2 separate regions of the Homo sapiens genome follow, and region 2 is linked to region 1. Evidence: fine-mapped expression QTL. A gene starts in region 1. The other region holds a variant in brackets. All regions are shown on one strand. Distances are between the middles of the regions. Region 1 holds the start of CERS5 (ceramide synthase 5). Region 2 overlaps LIMA1 (LIM domain and actin binding 1).

Region 1 (8,308 bases):
TACGCGGGGCTATTTTTGTATTTTTAGTAGAGATGAGATTTCATGTTGTTAGCCAGGCTGGTCTCAAACTCCTGACCTCAAGTGATCTGCCTGCCTCGGCCTCCCAAAGTGCTGGGATTACAGGTGTGAGCCAGCATGCAAGGCCATGCCCCGATATTTTTGATATGCCTTCTATTGCATTCTACAAGTGGCTCTAGGCCAGGGGCAGTGGCTCATGCCAGTAATCCCAAAACTTTGGGAAGCTGAGGCAGCAGGATCGCTTGAGGCCAGGAGCTCAGGCCTCTACAAAAATTTATTTTATTTATTTTTCTGAGACAGGGTCTCACTCTATCACCCAGGCTGAAGTACAGTGGTTTGATCACGGCTCACTGCAGTCTCAACCTCCCGGGTTCAAGCAATCCTCCTGCCTCAGCCTCCCAAGTAGATGAGACTAGAGACTATAGGCATGCACCATCACACCCAGCTAATTTTTAAATTTTTTTGTAGAGACAAGGTTTCACCATGTTGCCAAGGCTGGTCTCAAACTCCTAGGCTCAAGTGATCTGCCCTCCTCGGCCTCCCAAAGTGCTGGGATTACAGGCATGAGCCACCATGCCCAGCCTCTACAATTTTTTTTTTTTTTTTTGAGACAGAGTTTTCCTCTGCAGCCCAGGCTGGAGTGCAACAGTGTGATCTTGGCTCACTGCAACCTCTGCCTCTCCAACTCAAGCAATTCTCATGCCTCAGCCTCCTGAGTAGCTGGGATTACAGGCATGTACCACTATGCCCAGCTAATTTTTATATTTTTAGTAGAGATGGGGTTTCACCATGTTGGCCAGGCTGGTCTCGAACTCCTGGCCTCAAGTGATCTCCCTGCCTCGGCCTCCCAAAGTGCTGGGATTACAGGTGTGAGCCACCATGCCCCGCTCTCCCAATTTTTTTTTTTTTTTTTAATTAGCTGGGCATAGTGGTGTGCACCTATGGTCCTGGCTACTTGGGAGGCTGAGGTAGGAGGATTGCTTGAGCCAAAGAGGTCGAGGCTGGAGTGAGCTTCGTGCCACTGCAGTCCAGCCTGGGTGAGGCTGAGACCCTGTCTCAAAAACAACAATAAGAGTGGAGTGGTCTATTTTCTTTATGGAAGACCAGAACGGTAAAAGAGGAATTGGCAAGTCAGCAGTGAATTATATTACTGAGGTAATGGGTCTTAAAAGAAACAAAATAGCAAGAGTGCTTCTAGGGTTAAACTTTCCTAAGAGCAAACATGAGACAAACAAGGTGCCTGTCTTTACTAGCCAAGAATTATCATACTAGAATGCTTTCAGCTCAGTATTCCCATCCACCTGTACTCCTCTGACACTGGAGCACCATAGAAACACTCAGATAGAATTCCCACAGGTAAAGGATCCCTTCCAGCAGCTCTGCCAGGGGATATATGTCTTCAGCCATCTGAGGGAACACTTTGGAATCTCAAGAGATACGTAAGTTTATATAAAATGGGTGTTTATAAGCAACAAAACTATTTCCTCTTACCACTAACATGGGGAAATTTCCATATTGGCACATATTTATATGAAAAGCAGAGATGTTTTTCTATGAAAATCACCTTTTAAAAAAAAATTTGTCCTGACTTGTGTATTTTCCTTTGTAGTGATTACATTGCCTTCCTCCTTTTTTTTTTTGGCCCTCATATACAGAGACTATGGAAGAGAGTACCTGGATCTAGTTTATTCCAAAGACAGACAAGCAGTTTGTGCCTCCACTCCAGGATGACTAACTACAACGATTACACGTAAAAAGACAAAACAAGGCCGGGCGCGGCGGTTCACGCTTGTAATCCCAGCACTTTGGGAGGCCGAGGCAGGCGTATTACGAGGTCAGGAGATCGAGACCTTCCTGGCTAAGACGGTGAATCCCCGTCTCTACTAAAAATACAAAAAATTAGCCGGACATGGTGGCGGGCGCCTGTAGTTTCAGCTACTCGGGAGACTGAAGCAGGAGAATGGCGTGAACCCGAGAGGCGGAGCTTGCAGTGAGCTGAGATCGCGCCACTGCACTCCAGCCTGGGCGACAGAGCGAGACTCCGTCTCAAAAAAAAAAGAAAAAGAAAAAGAAAAAAAAAAAAACCTTGCTACACTAAGTTCCTGAGGGCCAAGGAAAGCCATTTAGATCTTTGGGTTTCATTTGCTTCACTTAAGCATCTTTATTTTTGCACTTGAACGTCTGGCAGAGCATTTTGATGATGATGATGCACAAATACTACGAATAAATGGATGCGTGACTAGCTAAATAGAACACAAGATTTTGAAAGACTTGAGTCAAAAACAGTAGGCAAATCAAAGAAGCAATCCCAAACAGATGCTATCTTTCAGAAATTAACAGATTATTTCACCTGCAACATATTCCCATCCTAGAAAGGGCATTCCTGCATTACAATCATTTATGCTTGGATAAAGGCAAAACGAACAGATGTCCAAGAACCACCCTCATTACCTGAGGCCTATGGCAGAAACATGTCTCCTTTCTTGGAGTCTGAGTAGACTTGATCAAAATCACCCACAGGTATAAATTCACATTATAATATCACACACCAAAGCCTCAGTGAATATCTTTATCTTGGACAAACATATGATCCATTCACTTAAAGGTGAAATCATGTGGTTGAACAAAGTATACTGCAATTCTGCTAAACTCATTTAGAAGCTGGCTCAAGGCCGGGTGCGGTGGCTCACGCCTGTAATCCCAGCACTTTGGGAGGCAGAGGCGGGCGGATCACTTGAGGTCAGGAGTTACAGACCAGCCTGGCCAACATGGCGAAACCCCGTCTCTACTAAAAATACAAAAAGTAGCCGGGCGTGGTGGCGCGTGCCTGTAATTCCAGCTACTCGGGAGGCTGAGGCAGGAGAATCGCTTCAACAGGGGAGGCGGAGGTCGCGGTAAGCCGAGATCGTGCCATTGCACGCCAGCCTGGGCAACAAGAGCGAAACTCTGTCTCAAAAAAAAAAAAAAAAAAAAGAAAAGAAAAAAGAATCTGGCTCAATATAGCTGTCCTCTGATAAAGCCCTGTGGCTCTCCTCCATCCCTTCGAACACACTCCTCCTTCCATTTCAGGCCCCAAGGCCTGTTCTGCAACTAATCTGACATCTTTCCATTACTTTGGAAGCCTAGGGCTCCACCACACCCTATCCCAACCAGATTTCTACCCTCCTACCAACAAACGTGCATGAGTTGACATACCAAACCAACTCTTAGGGCCAAACTAATCCTGTTCCCCCCAATTCTCGGAAACTCAAGCGTCCTAACAAATCTTAAGAGTCTGATGAGTCCATTCCTTTCCCTTGGAACGTCTGGCCCTTGCGTTGACCCCTCGGCTTCCATGGTCACAACTAGCTCTGGTTCTCCTGGCCCCTTCCTATCCCTCTCTTCGGGGCCTCTGCCAGAGCTCACACTGAACCTGTTTCCTCATCTGTAGGACCCTTGGAGGTTGGGAGGAGGCCTATATGACCCCCCCAATCCAACTCCGGATCTAACATTGAAGGGGCCCAGCATTCCCCTAGACCCTCACTCTTTCTCTTGCCCACGCCCCAAACTCCTTCTCCATCTAGGCTACCACCTCGCCCACGCGCCTAGCATCACCCGCCGCGGCCCAAGCTCCCCCAGCCCCTGCTTCCGGGCTTTCCTTGCAGTTCTGCTTCCGGCCCTCGGCCCTTCCCACAGCGGGGCGCCCCCGGCCCGCGCCCGGCCCCCGAGCCGCTCGCTCCCGGGCTCTCACCGCTCGAAGAGCAGCCTCACGAAGAAGATGCCCGCCGCCAGCGGGAACACCGAGAGGATGTGCCGGCCGCGGGGGTAACCGTAGCCGTCGGCCGGCCCCTCCAGATCAGCCCAGCTCACGTTCTCGGGTAGCCAGAAGCGCTCGCTCCACAGCCAGCCCCACAGCAAGCTTAGGGGTCCCTGCGCTGCTGTCGCCATCTTACGCCCACCCCGAAGCCACCGCCGCCACAAGCGTCAGCTGCCGCCACAGCCAACGGAACCCGCGGGGAGGCGGCCCCAGGGCGGGGCCCGGCCGGCGGCCACCCCCTTCCGGCCCCTTCTGGTCACTGCCACGGATCCGCCCGCCTCCCTGGCAGGGCCGGGCCTCTTCACCGCCCATCTCTCCTCCCGGCCCACTTCCCTCACTGCAACCCGGGGACCGCCTCCGGGGATCCACGCCCCTTCCCGAGCCTCTGACTCGCCCAGCCCGGCCCTGGGACCACGCCTCGGGCGGCCCTGGGCCCGCCCTCTTTTGCTGCTGGTCTAGGCCACGCTTCTACTCCTCCCTCACTCTTCCATCCAGCTACGGCCACACCCCTTATTTCAGGCCTAGCTCCTTTACGGGGACATTCTCCTTTCTCAGCCTGTTGGAATCGAATCCGTTCCGGCTCCCACCCAGGCGGTACCTCTGTCTCCACTCCCGGAGGCCAGATCGATCTCTCAGGTCAGGGCTTCTCTTGGATGTCAGCTGGTCCTGCCCACTACTGTCCGCCACTAGAGTTCTTTTCGCTCCCAACCTTTTCTTCCCTTCGTGCCCCGTGACCTCAGCCTACTTTCACTGCTTTATCCCTTAAAAATTAGTCACTTTTCCTCAGAAAAAATGGACTTAACAGTTTACAAAAGGCCGGGCGCGGTGGCTCACGCCTGTAATCCCAGCACTTTCAGAGGCCGAGGCTGGCGGATCACCTGAGGTCAGGAGTTCGAGACCAGCCTGGCCAACATGGCAAAACCCCGTCTCTACTAAAAATACAAAAATTAGCTGGGCCTGGTGGCGCTGTGCCTGTAATCCCAGCTACTCGGAAAGCTGGGACAGGAGAATCGCTTGAACCTGGGAGGCGGAGGTCGCAGTGAGCCGAAATCGCGCCATTGCACTCCAGCCTGGGCGACAGACCAAAGACTCCGTCCCAAAATAAAAATAAAAAAAGTTTACAAAAATCCTTTTATTCTTCTCTTGGGGAAAAGGAAATGGAAGAAAAACAAAGTGAAAAGGGAAGCACTCAAAAAGTATACGTAAAGGCAGGCCGGGTGTGGTGGCTCACGCCTGTAATCCCAGCACGTTGGAAGGCCAAGGCGGAAGAATCACCTGAGGTAAGGAGTTCGAGACCAGGCTGGCCATGGTGAAACCCCGTCCCTACTAAAAATACAAAAATTACCCGGGTGTGGTGGTGCATGCCTGTAATCCTAGCTACTCGGGAGGCTGAGGCAGGAGAATTGCTTGAGGCGGAGATCACAGTGAGCCGAGACCACGCCATTGCCCTCCAGCCTAGGCAACAGAGCGTCTCAAAACAAAAACAAACAAAAAAAGGCCGGGCGCGGCTCACGCCTGTAATCCCAACACTTTGGGAGGCCGAGGCGGGCGGATCATGAGGTCAGGAGATCGAGACCATCCTGGCTAACACGGTGAAACCCCATCTCTATTAAAATACAAAAAATTAGCCAGGCATGGTGGCGGGCGCCTGTAGTCCCAGCTACTTGGGAGGCTCAGGCAGGAGAATGGCGTGAACCCGGGAGGCGGAGCTTGCAGTGAGCCCAGATTGCGCCACTACACTCCAGCCTGGGCGACAAAGTGAGACTCGTCTCAAAAAAAAAAAAAAAAAAAGTATATCTAAAGGACCTAAAGGCAAAACAAAATAAATAGCCAATGTTTGATGAGGTTTCCTGTGTGCCAGGCACTGCATGGAACATTTTACACAGGTTATTTCACTCCTTCACCCTATAAAGTTGATCTTGTTATCCCCACTGGATAAGTAAACTGAGGTCCAGTGAGGCCAAACAACTTGCCCAAAGTTATGTAGGTAAGAAGTGGTAGCTAGTGTTAAGTCAAGTTTAATCTAAAGCTGCCTCCTTACATATTTAAGTTCGGCCTAAAGGTTTTCTGTACATTGTGAACTGTAACAAGTGGAGGTGTAAATCGAACGTAGACCACACCAGTGCCAATCACTGAATTTTGGCCAATCAAATGTAGCCAACTGTTCCAACCACGTTCAAATGAGACAAACGCTGATCTGTAACCAATCTGGTTGTTTCTGTACCTCACTTTCATTTTGCTGTCCATAAATCTTCCACCACGTGAATATGCTGGGTCTCTGTGGATATGCTGGGTCTCTCTGAATCTGCTGTGATTCAGGGGCTGCCCAATTTGAGAATCATACATTGCTCAAACTCCTTTAGGCTGGGCACGGTGGCTCACGCCTGTAATCCTAGCACTTTGGGAGGCCGAGGCAGGCGGATCACAGGTCAGGAGATCGAGACCATCCTGGCTAACATGGTGAAACTCCGTCTCTACTAAAAATACAAAAATTAGCTGGGCGTGGTGGTGCGTGTCTGTAGTCCCAGTTACTTGGGAAGCTGAGGCAAGAGAATCGCTTGAACCCAGGAGGCGGAGGTTGCAGTGAGCTGAGATAGCACCACTGCACTCTATCCTGGGCAACGGAGTGAGACTTTGTCTTGGAAAGAAAAAACAAAACAAACAAACAAACAAAAAACTCCTTTAAATTTGGCTGTTTTGTTTGTTTGCATGTTTTTTTGTGAGAAGGAGTCTCACACCCAGGCTGGAGCGCAGTGGTGCCATTTCTGCTCACTGCAACCTCCACCTCTGGGTTCAAGAGATCCTCCCTTCTCAGCCTCCCGAGTAGCTGGGACTACAGACACGTGCCACCACACCCGACTAATTTTTGTATTTTTTGATAGAGCCTGGGGTTTCACCATGTTGGCCAGGCTGGTCTCGAACTCCTGACTTCAAGTGATCTGCCTGTCTCAGTATCCCTGTTGGGAATGAAGTTTTTGGTGTTGCAAAAAGAAAAGAAAAGAAAACAAAACAAAAACAAAAAAACACGGGAACAAATGATCTCTCAGCAAGGAGAGCTTTACTTTCTGCAGAAAGGGTGCTGCTACTCAAAAGCTGTCTAGCCATGAGAGCACACCGAACAAAGGAGACAGAGTTATTTATAATCTGAGGTGTCTACCCTACTGCTGTGTCCATTTTCCATTGGCTGGAATAGGACCTCACATTTTACACTTTACCTGATTGGCTATTAGTTTAAAACTTTTAAAATTGGTTAAGGGGAACAGAACAAAGAAAGAAAAGGAAGTTGCCCAGGGATCATTAAGGAAGCATCACCAAATAAGGAATGGCATGCACTGTGGGCTGGGGCTTGTCTAGTTCTGTCCAGGCATGCAGGAGCAATCTAGGACAGCTGATTTGGAATACACACACACACACACACACACACACACACACACACACACATACATACACACACACACACACACACAGTGGATAGCAATCTTATAGTAAGAAATTGTGACTTTTTATAATCTTTGAAGAACTTTCCGATTTCTCACACTCCCAAAGTGCTGGGACTACAGGCGTGAGGCCACTCCGCCCAGCCTAAAGTGTTTTTTTTGTTTGTTTGTTTTGTTTTGTTTTTTGTTTTTTGTTTTTTTTTGAGACGGAGTCTCGCTCTGTCGCCCAGGCTGGAGTGCAGTGGCGGGATCTCAGCTCACTGCAAGCTCCACCTCCCGGGTTCACGCCATTCTCCTGCCTCAGCCTCCCAAGTAGCTGGGACTACAGGCGCCCGCCACTACGCCCGGCTAATTTTTTGTATTTTTAGTAGAGACAGGGTTTCACCGTTTTAGCCGGGATGGTCTCGATCTCCTGACCTCGTGATCCGCCCGCCTCGGCCTCCCAAAGTGCTGGGATTACAGGCGTGAGCCACCGCGCCCGGCTTTTTTTTTTTTTTTTTTGAAACGGAGTCTCGGTCTGTAGCCCAGGCTGGAGTGCACTGGCGGGATCTCGGCTCACTTCAGCCTCCGTCTCCTGGATTCAAGCTATTCTCTCCCCTCAGCCTCCCGAGTAGCTAGGATTACAGGCAGGCTCCACCATGCCCTGCTAATTTTTGTATTTTTAGTAGAGATTGTGTTTCGCTATGTTGGCCATGGAACTCCTGACCCAAGTGATCCACCCGCCTGGGCCTCGCAAATGGCTGGGATTACAGGCTTGAGCCACCACGCCCGGCCGAATTTTTTTTTTTTTTTTTTTTTTTTTTGAGACGGAGTCTAGCTCTGTCGCCCAGGCTGGAGAGCAGTGGCGCGATCTCGGCTCACTGCAAGCTCCGCCTTCCAGGTTCACGCCATTCTCCTGCCTCAGCCTCCCTAGTAGCTGGGACTACAGGCGCCCGCCACCACACCCGGCTAATTTTTTTGTATTTTTAGTAGAGACGGGGTTTCACTGTATTAGCAGGATGGTCTCAATCTCCTGACTTCGTAATCCGCCCACCTTGGCCTCCCAAAGTGCTGGGAT
Region 2 (8,329 bases), 100 kb after region 1:
GGTCAGGTGGTTTTCAAAAAAAAAACTTCAGTAGCCATGGTGGAATCCACAAACATCCTTCCCATCTCCACACAGCACCACCCTTCCTTATCCTCCTCCTTCCCATGGGGAACCTTCTTCTGCAGGTCTCAACAAGCCTACTTGTTGAGCCTACAGAGCTGCCACTTCCTTCACTGTCTAGGCTCCTCGGTCAGTGACTGGCCAGGGATGGGCCTGCTCCATATAAACAATGCTATGGAAATACACAATGTAAGAAGTAGAAGTCCCTGCCAGCTCTTGTCTGCCCTCCCCCCAAACCAATTCTACTTCTCAAAGGTAACCTCTGTCAAAGTCTGGAGCATAAACTTTCTGTTATTACCTATACAATAATAATTGCCACCACAAAGCACTATGTGTCAGTCACTGTACTAAGCACTCTACATATGTTATCTCAGTTTACCCTTGCAACAAGTCATGAGGTAGGTACCATCAGGATGCCTATTTTACAGATGAGAAAACTGAGGCACAGAGAAATTGACACACAACATGCATAAATACAAACATGTTTTAGAAATACAATGGTTTCATGTTAATGTGCTGTTCAGCAATTATTTATTTCCTCTTGAACATCTTCCCACCTCAGGGCATACAGATCTATCTCAATCTTTCAGTACCTCATAATATTTCATTCTGTAATAGTTTAAAACCTATTTAACAAGGCCCCTGTGGATGATCATGTAGGTTGCTTTTGCTTCTTCACTGTTATGAATAAGAATGGAACAAACATGCTTGTACTATTGCCTACCTGGGGCGGGGTGCATCTACGGCATAAATTCCTAGAAGGAGCATTTCTAGTTTAAAAGGCCTATGCATTAAATTTTTAAATAGATATTCTGAGATTTCCCTCAAAAAAGTCACATCCATTTATATTTGAATCTTTCTCCACATTCTTGTCAGTAATAAGCATTATTTTTATTTTTTCCAATCTGATAGATGTGTGAAAATGGTACATTATTGTTTTAGTTTTCACTCCTTTAATCATGAGTGAGGTTGAGCATATTTTCAAATATGTGTTGGCCACTCAATACATTTACTTTTTTTTTATTCTGAGACAGAGTCTCACTCTGTCACCCAGGCTGGAGTGCAGTGGCCTGATCTTGGCTCACTGCAGCCTCTGCCTCCTGGGTTCCAGTGATTCTCCTGCCTTAGCCTCCTGAGTAGCTGGGATTACCGGGGCGTGCCACCATGCCCAGCTAATTTTTTTATTTTTATTATTATTTTTTGAGACGGAGTCTAGCTCTGTCGCCCAGGCTGGAGTGCAGTTGCGCAATCTCGGCTCACTGCAAGCTCCATCTCCCGGGTTCACGCCATTCTTCTGCCTCAGCCTCCCAAGTAGCTGGGACTACAGGCATCCCCCACAATGTCCGGCTAATTTTATATGTATTTTTAGTAGAGATGGGGTTTCACCGTGTTAGCCAGGATGGTCTCGATCTGCTGACCTCGTGATCCACCTGCCTTGGCCTCCCAAAGTGCTGGGATTACAGACGTGAGCCACCGCACCCGGTCACGCCCAGCTAATTTTTGTATTTTTTTTTAGAGATAGGGTTTCACCATGTTGGCCAGGCTGGTCTCGAACTTCTGACCTCAGATGATCCACCCTCCTTGGCCTCCCAAAGTGCTGGGATTACAGGTGTGAATCACCGTGCCCCCTGGCCACATTTACTTTTTTTTTTTGAGACAGAGTCTCGCTCTGTCGCCAGGCTGGAGTGCAGTGGTGCAATTTTGGCTCACTACAACCTCCACTTCCTGGGTTCAAGCAATTCTCCTGCCTCAGCCTCCTGAGTAGTTGGGACTACAGGTGCATGCCACCACACCCAGTGAATTTTTGTATTTTTAGTAGAGGCGGGGTTTCACCATGTTGGCCAGGATGGTTTTGATCTCTTGACCTTGTGATCCACCTGCCTCGGCCTCCCAAAGTGCTGGGATTACAGGCATGAGCCACCACACCCAGCCTGCCTATTTTTTCTTTTGGTGAAGAATGAGGTCTCACTATGTTGCCCAGGCTGGCCTCAAACTCCTAGCCTCAACCTATCTCTCACTTCTGCCTCCCTAACTGCTGGGGTTACAGGTGTAAGCCACCGTGCCCGGCCACATTTATTTTTTTAACGACATTTATAAATTGTTTATTATCTCTACAACTTACTTTTTTTTAAATTATACAAGGACTTTCTGAATATCATGTGTAACTCCTTGTACAATTGGATTTGCCTCTCACAGCAGCTGTCCTTTCCTGGTGTCTGATTCTTATCCAGATCTCATTAATATTCTTTCCAAACAAAAATGCCGCTTGACTATACAGATGAGTGCCTCGTTTCTGCGGGGTTCCCTTTTGCAGGACACCCACCCCTGACTGCTCATTAATATTCTAAGCAGAGCACAACCCTGTAAGAAGCCTGACGGACACTGACAGCCCAGGCATTGAGAGAGGATCACTGCTGCTACCCTCCACCACCCAGTCTAGTGCTTTCAGATAAGGGTGGTACTCTGAGTATCAGGATCACCTATGGAATCTGAACCTCTCATATGGAGTCCAAACATGTTAATTTTTGCAGACCCAGACCCTAAACGCTCACCATCTAGACAGATAATGTCAGAATCAGGTACAAGTTTGAACCCCTTAAGCATAAGCCTGAGGATTGGTTATTGAGTACTGGCCATATGCCAGGTGCTTTACATGTTATCTCATTCCATTTGATCTTATTCACTTAATTCTTACACTGCCATGAAGCAATTATTATTATTATTATTATTATTGTAAGAGACAGGGTCTTGCTATGTTGCCCAGGCTCGTCTTGAACTCCTGGGCTCAAGCGATCCTCCCACCTTGGCCTCCCAAAGTGCTGGGATTATAGGCATGAGCCACCACACTGGGTCAGCAAATATTTATTATTCTCATTTTACAGAGGAAGAAACTAAGGCTCTAGAAATGTTCAATAACTTGCTCAAGGTCACAGAGCTAATAACTGATAGAGCTAGGATTTGAAACAATCCCACAGACCATAATGTCCATGTTCTAATGACATATTACAAACCACATCTTCCCGGTATTTAGGGGCTGTCTGGACCGGTCTTATCCTTTAAGAGTCTTGAAACTAGGAATATTAAAGGCTGGGCCAGATGCCCCAGCCTATTCCACATCTAAGCCAACTCTACCCAAGGCTCCTTTTGGCTCAAGTCTACATATTGAGTCTACCACACACTTACTGGGTAACATGAGGAAAATTACTCTAAGCCTTAGTTTCATCATCACTAAAATGTTCTCTTAGCACATTGCTAAAATAAGTACTTAATAATGATAGCAGTGGTGGTAATAAAAATACCTAACATTTATTGACCATTTACCATGTGTCAGATACTGTCTTAATTGTTTTGCATATATAACTTATTTAATCTTCACAGTAACACACTCAGAATTATTACCGACTCACTTTATGTAAGTGTATTATTGAATAATATTCAGATGAAGAAACTGAGGCCCAAAGAAGTTAAATAAATGTTAGCTCTTTTCATTTTTTAGGAGGTTGGCCTGGAAACAAAATGATCTGCAGCACGGAAAATAAACCAGAAAAGCAGTTCTAGCGTACATGATATTTCAGGGTCAGCTTATTTCTGTTAAATCACCAATAAAAAGAGAATATCTCTAATGTAATAATATCTGAGAAACTGATGGTTACTACCAGGAACACCAGATCTGATCAAAGACCTGACACCATTTCTCTGCACCATAAAGTCTAAATC[G/A]GTAAAAGTTATCTCTCTTAAGGATAAAATTTTAGGAGCGGGCGCAGTGGCTCATGCCTGTAATCTCAGCACTTTGGGAGGCCGAGGCGGGAGGATCACCTGAGGTCACAAGTTTGAGACCAGCTGACCAACATGGAGAAACCCCGTCTCTACTAAAAATACAAAAAATTAGCCGGGTGTGGTGGCACATGTCTGTAATCCCAACTACTTGGGAGGCTAAGGCAAGAGAATCGCTTGAACCTGGGAGGCGGGGGTTGCAGTGAACTGAGATCACACCATTGCACTCCAACCTGGGCAACAAGAGCAAAACTCCGTCAAATAAAAAAAAAAAAAAAAAAAAAATTTAAAAAGGCTAGGCACGGTGGCTTATGACTGTAATCTCAGCACTCTGGGAGGCCGAGGTGGGCGGATCACCTGAGGTCGGGAGTTCAAGACCAGCCTGACCAACGTGGAGAAACCCCGTCTCTACTAAAAATACAAAATTAGCCAGGTGTGGTAGCACGTGCCTGTAATTCCAGCTACTCGGGAAGGCTGAGGCAGGAGAATCTCTTGAACCCGGGTGGCAGAAGTTGCGATGAGCCGAGATCGCGCCATTGTACTCTAGCCTGGGCAACAAGAGTGAAACTCTGTCAAAAAAAAAAAAAAAAAAAAAAAAAAGGGATAAAATTTTAGGTGTTATCAACGCATCAACACCTCTGTAAGAACTCTAAGTTGGGCCAGGCACAGTGGCTCACGCCTGTAATCCCAGCACTCTGGGAGACCAAGGAGGATAGATTGCTTGAGTTCAGGAGTTCAAGACCAGCCTGGGAAAAATGGCAAAACCCCATCTCTACAAAAAGTACAAACAAATAAGTTAGCCAGGTGTGGTGGCTTGAGCCTGTAATCCCAGCTACTCAGAAGGCTGAGGTGGGAGGATTGCTTCAGCCTTGGAGGTGGAGGTTGCAGTGAATCCAGATCACGCCACTGCACTCCAGCCTGGGCAACAGAGTGAGACCTTATCTCAAAAAAAAAAAAAAAAAAAAAAAAAGAACTCTATGTTGAAGAGAACATAACTATAACCTTCCCACAGGGCTTCTATTACCTTATTCATTTGTGTGAATATCTTATCTTCTTGTGCTTATGAACCCCAAATTAGTTTTTTACATAATTGTGGTAATCTTCACATATCTTATTTAGACAGGTAAAAAAGAGTAACCCCAGTTACAGCCTTTGAAAACTGACTTTGGGCACCTGTAATCCCAGCACTTTGGGAGGCCGAGGTGGGCGGATGACGAGGTCAGGAGATCAAGACCATCCTGGCTAACACAGTGAAACCCCGTCTCTACTAAAAACACAAAAAATTAGCCGGGCGTGGTGGCGGGTGCCTATGGTCCCAATTACTCGGGAGGCTGAGGCAGGAGAATGGCATGAACCCAGGAGGCGGAGCTTGCAGTGAGCCGAGATCGTGCCACTGCACTCCAGCCTGGGCGACAGAGCGAGACTCCGTCTCAAAACAAACAAACAAACAAAAAACTGACTTTGGGCCAGGTGCTGTGGCTTACGCCTGTAATCCCAGCACTTTGGGAGGCTAAGGTGGGAGGATCACTTGAGCCCAGGAGTTTGAGGCTGCAGTGAGCCGTGACTATGCCACTGCACTCCAGCCTCGGCGACAGGGCAAGACTCTATCTTGAAAAACAAAAACAACTGACTTTGGTCTAAAATTTGTAGGTCATGAAGAACCACCCAAGAACTTTCCTAATCTTTTTTTTTTCCCTTTAAATTAAAAAATTACCAGATCAAATTCAAGTCTAACTCCACCTCTCTCCCAATTAATAAAATTTGTTATTTGCTCATTTGGTTCTTTCCCTCCCCGTCCCAGCTGATCATTAACTTATTCTAAGGGCAAACATAATCCAACGAAGTGAGGTTTTCTTATTTTTCCAGTAGTTTTTTTTCACACATAGTAAGAAAAATCTCTTTCAGTAAGTAGAAAAACAGATCATTAAGTCACTAGCTTCAAATTTAAGGTAAAGAGTAGAGAAAAACATAGCTAATTAGAAAAAGAATGTGGAAATTTACAATTGACCAAGACCATCACGACAAAGCACAGACTTCCTCTGAACAGCATATTTCTCCTTTAACCTTTGTACCTTTCCATACTTTAACATCAGATGTACTGAATACCAGTGCCTGGAACATGTAGGGGCTCAATAAATATCTGTTATATGAATGAAAAACAGTGTTACACTAGTACTGAATTGCCACACATCTCAGCAAAGGCCCACCTACATAACTGAAAATCTGCCGAGAAACTACATGCTCATAAGTCTTGCCAATTACATGCTTAATTAAGGCAAAATAGTTCATTAAGGAGCCTTCTTTACAATCTCAAAGCAAAAGAAACACATACGCTTATTTTAGGAAGGCTCCTTCTGTTAAAGATATAACCTTCTTAAAGCAGCCCTTTGTCCTTAATAACTAATCAAGTTTTCTCCAAATACAGGGCTTCTTAGTTTCACTTCTGGACATTTCCAGGAAGGGCCTGGCTTCCATTCTTATCTGAAATTTTAGATGATGTGCTGTTTTTCAGGACTTGCTCAATCTGAAGAGTCAGTTCAGATCAGTTTAACCAATACCTTCAAGCAGGAGAATTAAAATGGATTTACTAAAAAGTGACTCTTCTCTAGGCAAGTTCTTTAATCCTTCCTTTCTTTAAAAGAGAAGCTGGCCGGGCACGGTGGCTCATTCCTATAATCCCAGCACTTTGGGAGACCGAGGCGGGCGGATCACCTGAGGTCGGGAGTTCGAGATCAGCCTGACCAACATGGAGAAACGCCGTCTGTACCAAAAATACAAAAAAATTAGCCAGGCATGGTGGTGCATGCCTGTAATTCCAGCTACTCGGGAGGCTGAGGCAGGAGAATTGCTTGAACCCGGGAGGTGGAGGTTGCAGTGAGCCGAGCTCGTGCCATTGCATTCCAGCCTGGGCAACAAGAGCGAAACTCCGTCTCAAAAAAAAAAAAAAAAAATCTGAGCAGCTACCACGTAACAATGCCTTAATAAAGGACAAGCATCACTGAGGCTGATCACATAAAGATGTACCAAATCACACCGCCACACAAGTGATAAAATTTGGCTACTTATCTGGACCAGTGCTAGGTATCTTATTAAGAATTGGTTATAGGGCCGGGCGTGGTGGTTCACCCCTGTAATCCCAGCACTTTGGGAGGCCGAGGCAGGCAGATCACGAGGTCAGGAGATCGAGACCATCCTGGCTAACATGGTGAAACCCCTTCTCTACTAAAAAAAATACAAAAAATTAGCCGGGCGTTGTGGCGGGCGCCTGTAGTCCCAGCTACTCGGGAGGCTAAGGCAGGAGAATGGCGTGAACCCAGGAGGTGGAGCTTGCAGTGAGCAGAGATCACACCACTGCACTCTAGCCTGGACAACAGAGCAAGACTCTGTCTCAAAAAAAAAAAAAAAGAATTGGTTATAAACATTTTTTTTTAAGAGGGAGCCTTACTCTCTCTCCCAGGCTAATTTTTGTAATTTTAGTAGAGACGGAGTTTTGCCATGTTAGCCAGGCTGGTCTCGAACTCCTGACCTCAAGTGATCCGCCAGCCTTGGCCTCCTAAAGTGCTGGGATTACAGGCGTGAGCCACCACACCTGGCCTGGTTATAAACATATTAATGTTACTGTTTCAATTGAATTTTAATGATTAGCTTCTAAAAGCTACATTTAATTCGGGACTGTAGAAAATAGTTATTGAGAGGCATTTGCTGGGTAGTGGTCTTTCAGTTGGCAGGGGAAAGATCATCACTGTCTTTGGGCCTCAATTTCTTCATCTCAAAAACAGGTATTGATTCACACAGGATGCTTATGAGGACTAAATGAAAGGATAAAAGCAAAAGTACTTTGAAAACTGTCAGCTACTCTACAAAGCATTATTTTAAATAAAACTTCAAGCCAGCATTAAGAAAAAAAATGGAATTAAAAAAGACTAACCAATGAAAAGAAATAGAAATTAGAACTAATTCATTATAATGTCTGGTTCAACTAGATGTTAATAAGAAACCTTTTGTTTAAAGCTGTTGCTGAAAATCTTTCTAATCAGTACACTGTCTAAACAGTGTGTCTAAACAGTAACACATTTCAGAGCATGTGTTAATAGTAAGTATAATGAAAATCATTTCATTTTTTCTTGAAGATTCTAGATAGCTTTCTAATTTTTCTCCTAGAGAATGAAAACAGAAGAAAACTTCTGGTTGTTTGTGGATTCCAGTAATTGGGTTTTAGTTTTGCCACACTGGCTTTTGAAAATGTAATAGGAGTTGATAGACTAGTATAATCCAGAGTAACAATCTGGGAAGTAGATGGCTATAGTGGTAGGAAAATAGTGGCCTGGATCCTGGAAACACCTTAGAAAACTTGCACTCAGATGGAACTTAATCCTGGTTGTCACAGTATCCAAACTTTTGTCCTGCTACCTTCCGAACTCCTCAGAGACTGCTACCTGATTTGAACCCAGATGGACCGACCTCAGCTGTTGTCCAGTTAAAAAAAATACAACAC

What was found.
Region 2: its variant is fine-mapped to the expression of CERS5 in tibial nerve (GTEx, PIP above 0.99).

The regions. Positions count from the first base shown.
Region 1 is chr12:50,163,353-50,171,660 of GRCh38, forward strand. It overlaps CERS5 (ceramide synthase 5), which reads right to left and starts at 4,017. Exons shown (of 10, transcript NM_147190.5): 1 at 3,749-4,017. The coding sequence starts at 3,945. LOC124902931 (a long non-coding RNA gene) reads left to right here. Exons shown (of 2, transcript XR_007063304.1): 2 at 1,674-2,271. RefSeq lists enhancers at 3,364-3,503, 4,394-4,553, 4,605-5,366 and silencers at 3,644-3,793, 3,894-4,293.
Region 2 is chr12:50,265,826-50,274,154 of GRCh38, forward strand. The region is part of intron 1 of LIMA1 (LIM domain and actin binding 1); the gene reads right to left. Among named protein-coding and RNA genes, the nearest start is that of LIMA1, 14 kb to the right of the region's middle. RefSeq lists a silencer at 7,306-7,485. The variant G/A (reference allele first, on the strand shown) is at 3,778.